Linked DNA regions of Homo sapiens: region 1 is reported to be linked to region 2. Evidence: microRNA targets listed by miRTarBase, many of them from high-throughput screens and not tested one by one. Region 2 holds a microRNA gene; the other region holds the end of a gene's coding sequence.

Region 1 (3,416 bases), not on the chromosome of region 2:
TAGATAACTGTCATCAAACTTCTCGGTGCCATTCCCACCACCTCCATGGGAGGAGTATACTTCCTGGTCCCATTAAAGTTAGGCTTGACCTTCACTTGCTTTGGTCAGTGTGAAAAAGCTGGCCTTCAGAGTCCTGACTAACCAATGTCCCTCCAACAGAATGAGAAAGGTGCAGCAAAAGCCAACCAATACATGAGACTGTTATACCTCTGCACAAGCATTCTCACAGAGGTTTGACTTCTCTGATTGATGACACTGGGAAAAGGATCCTGAAAGCCAGATACAGTTCAGTTCCTCCTGGGCTCTACTTCAGACCTTGATGGGCTTAACCTCTGTTCATCCTCTACATATGGTAAGCAACACTGAGCCAGAGTCCAGGCCAGGCCTAGAGGCCTATCATGCTGTCTTAGAACCTTCTCTTTAACATGGTGTAGAAACCACTCACAAGTCTTTCAGCTGTTGATTTAAACATCATCCTCCTGAGGTAAGCCTCAAGGTCTAGAAAGAGGATGGGACAGTCCACTTGGAGCTACAGGGCAAAGCTTTTCCAGTATAGCTTCACCTCAATAAAACTCATAGTTTGGCTCCCACTCAGCTCCAAAATGTGTATTTCTTTTTTATTTATTATTTTTTGAGATGGAGCCTTGCTCTGTCGCCCAGGCTAGAGTACAGTGGCACGGTCTTGGCTCACCGCAACCTCCACCTCATGGGTTCAAGCGATTTCTCCTGCCTCAGCCTCCCAAGTAGCTGAGATGCGCCCGCCACCACGCCCAGCTAATTTTTATATTTTTAGTAGAGACGGGGTTTGACCATCTTGGCCAGGCTGGTCTCAAACTCCTGATCTCGTGATCCACCTGCCTCGGCCTCCCAAAGTGCTGGGATTACAGGCGCGAGCCACTGCGCCCAGCCCAAAATGTGTATTTCTTAATTGATTATATAATCTGTAAGGGGTAAAATGACTCATCATGACTAGCTCTCCAGAAACCTCAGAGTAAATAGTAGCATGCAAATGATACAAAAATCTAAGAATTTAATCCTGTTAATATTGGTAGCTGAGTTGAAATGACCAGAGTATACACACAACCTTTAAAAATGTGATTTCAGCCGGGCGCAGTGGCTCACGCCTGTAATCCCAATGCTTTGTGAGGTCAAGGCGGGCAGATCATGAGGTCAGGAGTTCAAGACTAGCCTGGCCAACATGGTGAAACCCTCTCTCTACTAAAAATATAAAAATTAGCCAGGTGTGGTGGCACGTGCCTGTAATCCCAGCTACTCAGGAGGCTGAGACGGAAGAATGGCTGGAATCCGGGAGGCAGAGGCTGTAGTGAGCTGAGCTGCGTCACTGTACTCCAGCCTGGGCGACAGAATAAGACTCCATCTTGGGGGGGAAAAGTGATTTCGCAGAATTTAGTCTGACTTCTCAAATAGTTAAAATACAAATGAAGCATTTAATTGCCACTTTTCTTGAAATCATCTAGGTTGGTAACACCAGTGGTCCACTTATTCCATAAAGATATGAAGAGTCTACAAATTTGTCACTGAGAACCCAGAAACTGCCACTGATCCACAGTATTTGCTCAATATGTAATTTCTGAATGAACAGATTCAGACTATGTGCAATTACTTAAAAATAGTGAAGGTTAAATAAGTTAATACACATAAAGAACTTAGTGTCTAATAATAAACATTAATAAACTGAATTTTTACAAAATGAGGTCAGATTTAGATTAGAGATTAGAGAAGACTTTACAAATCTGCCTTAAACTGACCTTGGAAAAACAGGTGAGAACTGGATAGAAAGCATGTACCAGATGAGGGTATTAATGAAAGCACAGGAATAAGCATAGTATTTAAGTATATAAGGAAAAGTAGGCTGACAATAAGGCTAAGAGTATAGTAAAGTACTAAAATCAACACTTGTTCAACTGGAATTGTTGGACTAATTCCAAAGGACATTTATCTTTTCACAATGATGAAGTAATAGCCTTAAGTCTATTGCTATGAGATGAACAGGATGTGATCAAAGTTTATCCATTAGATTGAAGACACCTCAAGACTCACTCAACTTTGGACCCTTAAGTTCTATAACTTCGTAGGAACAAGAATTCATTAGCTATGCTGAATCAATTCTAATTACCATTTAACTATATCAACACCAAACCAGTATCAAAATGTTTTAAGACAAATTTAAAACAAACTTAACTTTATTTCCTCACTTTCACTTAAAACTTGATTTTATAAAACACATGAAAAAACATTTTTAAGAGTTCTGTATCACAGAACATTAAACAGTACAAATATCCATTGCTTCATAGGTTCAAGTTACATAAATTAAAGTCAAATAATTGGAAACTGATTCAATAGGGAAAACTATACATGAAATGAAGGTCAAAAGGAGCTATACAGCAATATTTCATTGTTTATAGATTATGAGTTACTTTCAGGACCTTAACAAAGATTCTGAATATTTAGACTTCCTTTGTTGTATTTTATACTTAAATATCTCCCTACCTATACTGAGTCAAACTACTTGACCAAAACATCTGATTTAGGAAAGCATCTAGCTTTATAGCACAAGTTTTTCCATCTACAGTTACTATCTTCAAAGGAATATACATCACAATGTTGACAAAAAAACCTCCTGGTTCCTTTTGAACAATGTGCAATAAATTCATGATGTTAACTCCATGGTAAGTCAAATAGGTACCAAAAAAATAAAAGGAACAATTACACACAGTTCAGTAAGTATCATTTTGGTTTTCTCCATGTAAAAATTAACCAATGAAATAAAACATATCAACTATAGATGACTTGATTTCAGGAAAACCACATTTCAAAATTACAATTACATTATTTTCCTCATGTCATCCTCAGTCATTGACAGGAATTTTGTAGGCCACCATGCTATTTACTTTGTGGATTGTAGTAGTAAATGAACGAAGGCGGACTTCCTCAGAATTGGTAATAAACTGTGGTCCCGACTCTTCCCATTTTTCAGGTACAACCAAATCTTTGTCTGTATAAATCAGCAGATCAAATGAACCTAAATTGGGGATAAGATCATTGAAGTATATTATTTTCTAAAAGTAAAACTAATCTTGCTGCCTCTCTTCTATTTTGAACCACTCACTGCTGGAAAAGGTCATTTGGCTTGGTCTCCAATCACTAGTTAATTTATTTTGCTCAATGAACATTTATTTCAGTAAAGAAAATATTGTATCTAACTTCCGTGCAATTTAGTGATTGTGTTCAAGTAACCCTTATCTTATTTAATAATGGTCCCAAAGCACAAGAATAGTGATGCCAGCATATTGTTATAATTGTTCCAGTTTATTATTAACTCTTACTATGCTTAATTTACATATTAAATTTTATCATAGGTATGTATGCATAAGAAAAAAACATTATATAGGGTT
Region 2 (3,416 bases):
AGCAGAGACAGTAGGGGCCTTGCTGGCACCATTCCAAACAAACACGGAAAAAGAAAACTAAAAAAACTCCACATGTTAACTTAGTGCCCTGGCTTTTTAACTTCTTGTTGTTTCTCTTTATGTCTTATTGTACTGTCTATGTCTTGAAAAGTTGTTGTAGCTGTTATCTTTGATTGGTTCATCGTTTATTCTTTCTACTTTAGTCAAGATAAGTTTATACATCACAACTACAAAGTTATACTATTCTGTGTTTTTCTGTGTGCTTACTATGGTAATAATGAGTTTTATATCTTCAGATGATATCTTGTTGCTCAATAACATCATTTTCTTTCAGATTGAAGAACTCTCTCTAGCCTTTCTTATAGGATAGGTATGGTATTGAAATCCCTCAGGTTTTATTTGTCTGAGAATGTCTTTATTTCTCCTTCAGGCTTAAAGGATATTTTCTCAAGATATACTAATCTAAGATAAGAGTTTTATTCTTTCAGCACTTTAAATATCTCATGCCACTCTCTCCTGACCTGTAAGGTTTGCACTGAAAAGTCTGCTGCCAGACCTATTGGAGCTCCACTGTGTGTTGTTTCTTTTCTCTTGCTGCTTTTAGAATCTTTCTTTATCCTTGGCCACTGGGAGTTTGATTATTAAATGCCTTGGGGTAGTCTTCTTTAGGTTAAATCTGCCTGGTGTTCTATAACTTCTTCTACTTGAATGTTGATATCTTTCTCTAGGTTTGGGAAATTCTCTGATACTATCCCTTTGAATAAACTTTCTATCCCTATCTCTTTCTCTACCTCCTCTTTAAAGCCAATAACTCTTAGATTTGTCCTTTTCAGGCTACTTTCTAAATCTTGTAGGCATGCTTCATTCTTTTTTATTCTTTTTCCCTTTTGTCTCCTCTGACTGTGTATTTTCAAATAGCCTGTCTCTAGGCTCACTAATTCTTTCTTCTGCTTGATCAATTCTGCTATTAAGAGACTCTGATAAATTCTTCAGCATGTCAACTACAGTTTTCAATTCTAGAATTTCTGATTGATTCTATTTAATTATTTCAATCTCTTTGTTAAATTTACCTGATAAAATATTGAATTCCTTCTCTGTGTTATCTTAAGTTTCTTTGAGTTTCGTCAAAACAGCTATTTTGAATTCTCTGTCTGAAACGTCATATATATCTATCTCTCTGGGATTGATCCCTGGTACCTCATTTAGTTCATTTGGTGAAGTAATGTTTTCCTGAATGATGTTGGCACTTGTAGAAGTTCTTTGGCATCTGGGCATTAAAGAGTTATGTATTTATTGTGGTCTTCACAGTCTGGGCTTATTTGTGCCTGTCTTTCTTGGGAAGGTTTTCTAGGTATTCAAAGGGACTTGGGCCCCAAGCCCAATAATACGGTGGGTTTTGTACACTCATAGAGGTACTGCTGTGGTGGTTGTGGGTAAGATCCAGAAGAATGCTCTGGATTACCAGGCAGAAACCCTTGTTCTTTTCCCTTACTTTCCCCAAAACACATGGAGTCTCTCTCTCTCTGTGCCGAACCACCTGGAACTGGGGGGTGTAGTGATGCAATCACCCCTGTGGCCACCACCACTGGGACTGTGCTGGGTCAGACCCAAAGCCAGCACAGCAATGGGCCTTGCCCAAGGCCCTTCCCGTCAGGGTAGTGAGTTCTTGTAGGCTCCAGGTGTGTCCAGAGATGCTGTCTGGGAGCCAGAAGTTGGAGTCAAAAACCTTAGAAACTTATGTGATGTTCTATTCTACGGAAGCTAAGTTGAGGGAAAGGAAGTAAAGTGGAGGGAAAAATAGGAAGGACTTTGCATGGTACTGAACCACAATACAAAGTCCCTCCTATTCTTCCCTCCCCTTTCCACAAGATGTAAGACAAAGTACCCTTTAACTTTGATCTCCTCTCCTTAAACGGAAAGAAACAGTCACTTCCATTGCTACAAGCTGCAATCCTGGGTTTGGGGGAGGGATGACTTCTCTTTACTCTCCCATAGCTGTGCCAGCTGGTGTCTCCCTAGGTCATGTTCCACTCCTAGTTCACTGGCTTGAAGCCCAGCCTAGCACTAGGAGTTGCCTAGGAATTGCAGTCTTTGTGTCCTAGACTGTCTTTCAAGTTTACCTAGGACCCCAGAGCACTTTAGCCCTAAGTGGTGAGGTTTGCACAGAAACTCAAGTTTGGACCACTGGGATGGGTGACCCCCCTCTGGCTAGGGCTGGTCCAGATGCTCCCATTGTGCACAGGCAATGGCTGAGCTCAATACAGCTTTATTCTCCACTGTAACAGGGCAGCACTGAGTTCAATGTAAAGTCGCCCAGCAGCTGTGCTCTCCCTCCCCAAAGTGCTCAAGTTCTCTCTCTGCACTGCATGGCCACTGCTAGGGGATGGAGGTGAGGTGGTGTCAGTGATTCTAAAGTATCTCTTCTGCCCTCCTCAATGCCTCTGTCGTTAAATCCAAGTACTGTGAATATGACGTTAAATCCAAGTACTGTGATTGCACACTTGATTGTTGGTTTTTGTGATGGGGCTTTTCTGTGTACAGATAGTTGTTAAGATTTGGTGTTCAAGCCAGAGGGACAAACAGTGAAGGCTTCTATCCCAACCATCTTGCTCCACCTCCCTAGATCTTATTTAAACCTTTTATTTTAATTGGCTTTTTTTTTTTTGACACTGCTCTGGCAGGGTATAAGTGAGGGCACTGCTTTGTTTCTGCCAGGTGGATGTCAAAGTCCAGGTTGCCCATTCAGCCTTCATTCACACCAAAGGGAGGCTCCTCATTATTGCTGAGCAGGTGGGTAAGTTCCACATCTCCAGAGTCTCAACTAATACTGCAGTGAAGTGGGAGGGTGTTCCCTCAATATCAACCAATGGGGATGAAGTGCAGGCTCTCTACTTGGACACCATCCTGGCAAGGATGTTGCAGGAGCACATTAGAGTTTCATGAGGGTAAGTCCAGGCTCCCTACTCAGCCTTTGTTTGTGTGAGAAATAGGACACAAATTTTTTATGACATTTGGCTAGGGTGGAGTGGTTATTGTGTAAAACCTTTCTGTCTTGCTAGATTGGTCCTTTATTGTTCTCCTTGGCTAGAGAAAACTGGCTTTTGTTGGGGTCTTTTGTGTTTGTATTCATTGAGATTTCCAGGTTTCCAGCTTCTTCAGCGCCAAGTTTGGGATATTAAAGACAAGAAGAAAACCCAGGGAACTCACCATCATGTTGTTCCTTGGGTTCTTGGCTGACTTCTTTTCAACCTCTGAGTCTTCTTACATGTTTTTTATATATAATATTTAGAGTTTTTAGTTACCCTTAATAGGAGGAATAGGGGAAAGTATATTTACTCTGTCTTTTTGGCAGTAGAAGTAGGTGTCATTGCCTTTTAAAATACTGAATATACATTCTTTATTATCTATATCCCCCT

Evidence for each region. Region 2 holds the annotated microRNA hsa-miR-6507-3p (CAAAGUCCUUCCUAUUUUUCCC, at 1,791-1,812, opposite strand). A microRNA usually pairs through its seed, bases 2 to 8, with sites in the 3' UTR of a target mRNA and lowers its output. Matches are read on the target gene's strand: a 7mer-m8 pairs with bases 2 to 8, a 7mer-A1 pairs with bases 2 to 7 and ends in A, and an 8mer does both.
Region 1: miRTarBase lists MAD2L1 as a target of hsa-miR-6507-3p. Seed matches in the 3' UTR shown: 7mer-A1 at 2,333-2,339.

What each region holds. Positions count from the first base shown.
Region 1 is chr4:120,057,248-120,060,663 of GRCh38, forward strand. MAD2L1 (mitotic arrest deficient 2 like 1) reads right to left here. Exons shown (of 5, transcript NM_002358.4): 5 at 1-3,043. The coding sequence ends at 2,871. Among named protein-coding and RNA genes, the nearest start is that of MAD2L1, 7.9 kb to the right of the region's middle.
Region 2 is chr10:98,922,712-98,926,127 of GRCh38, forward strand. It overlaps MIR6507 (microRNA 6507), which reads right to left and starts at 1,857; the gene lies at 1,788-1,857. The region is part of intron 3 of HPSE2 (heparanase 2 (inactive)); the gene reads right to left.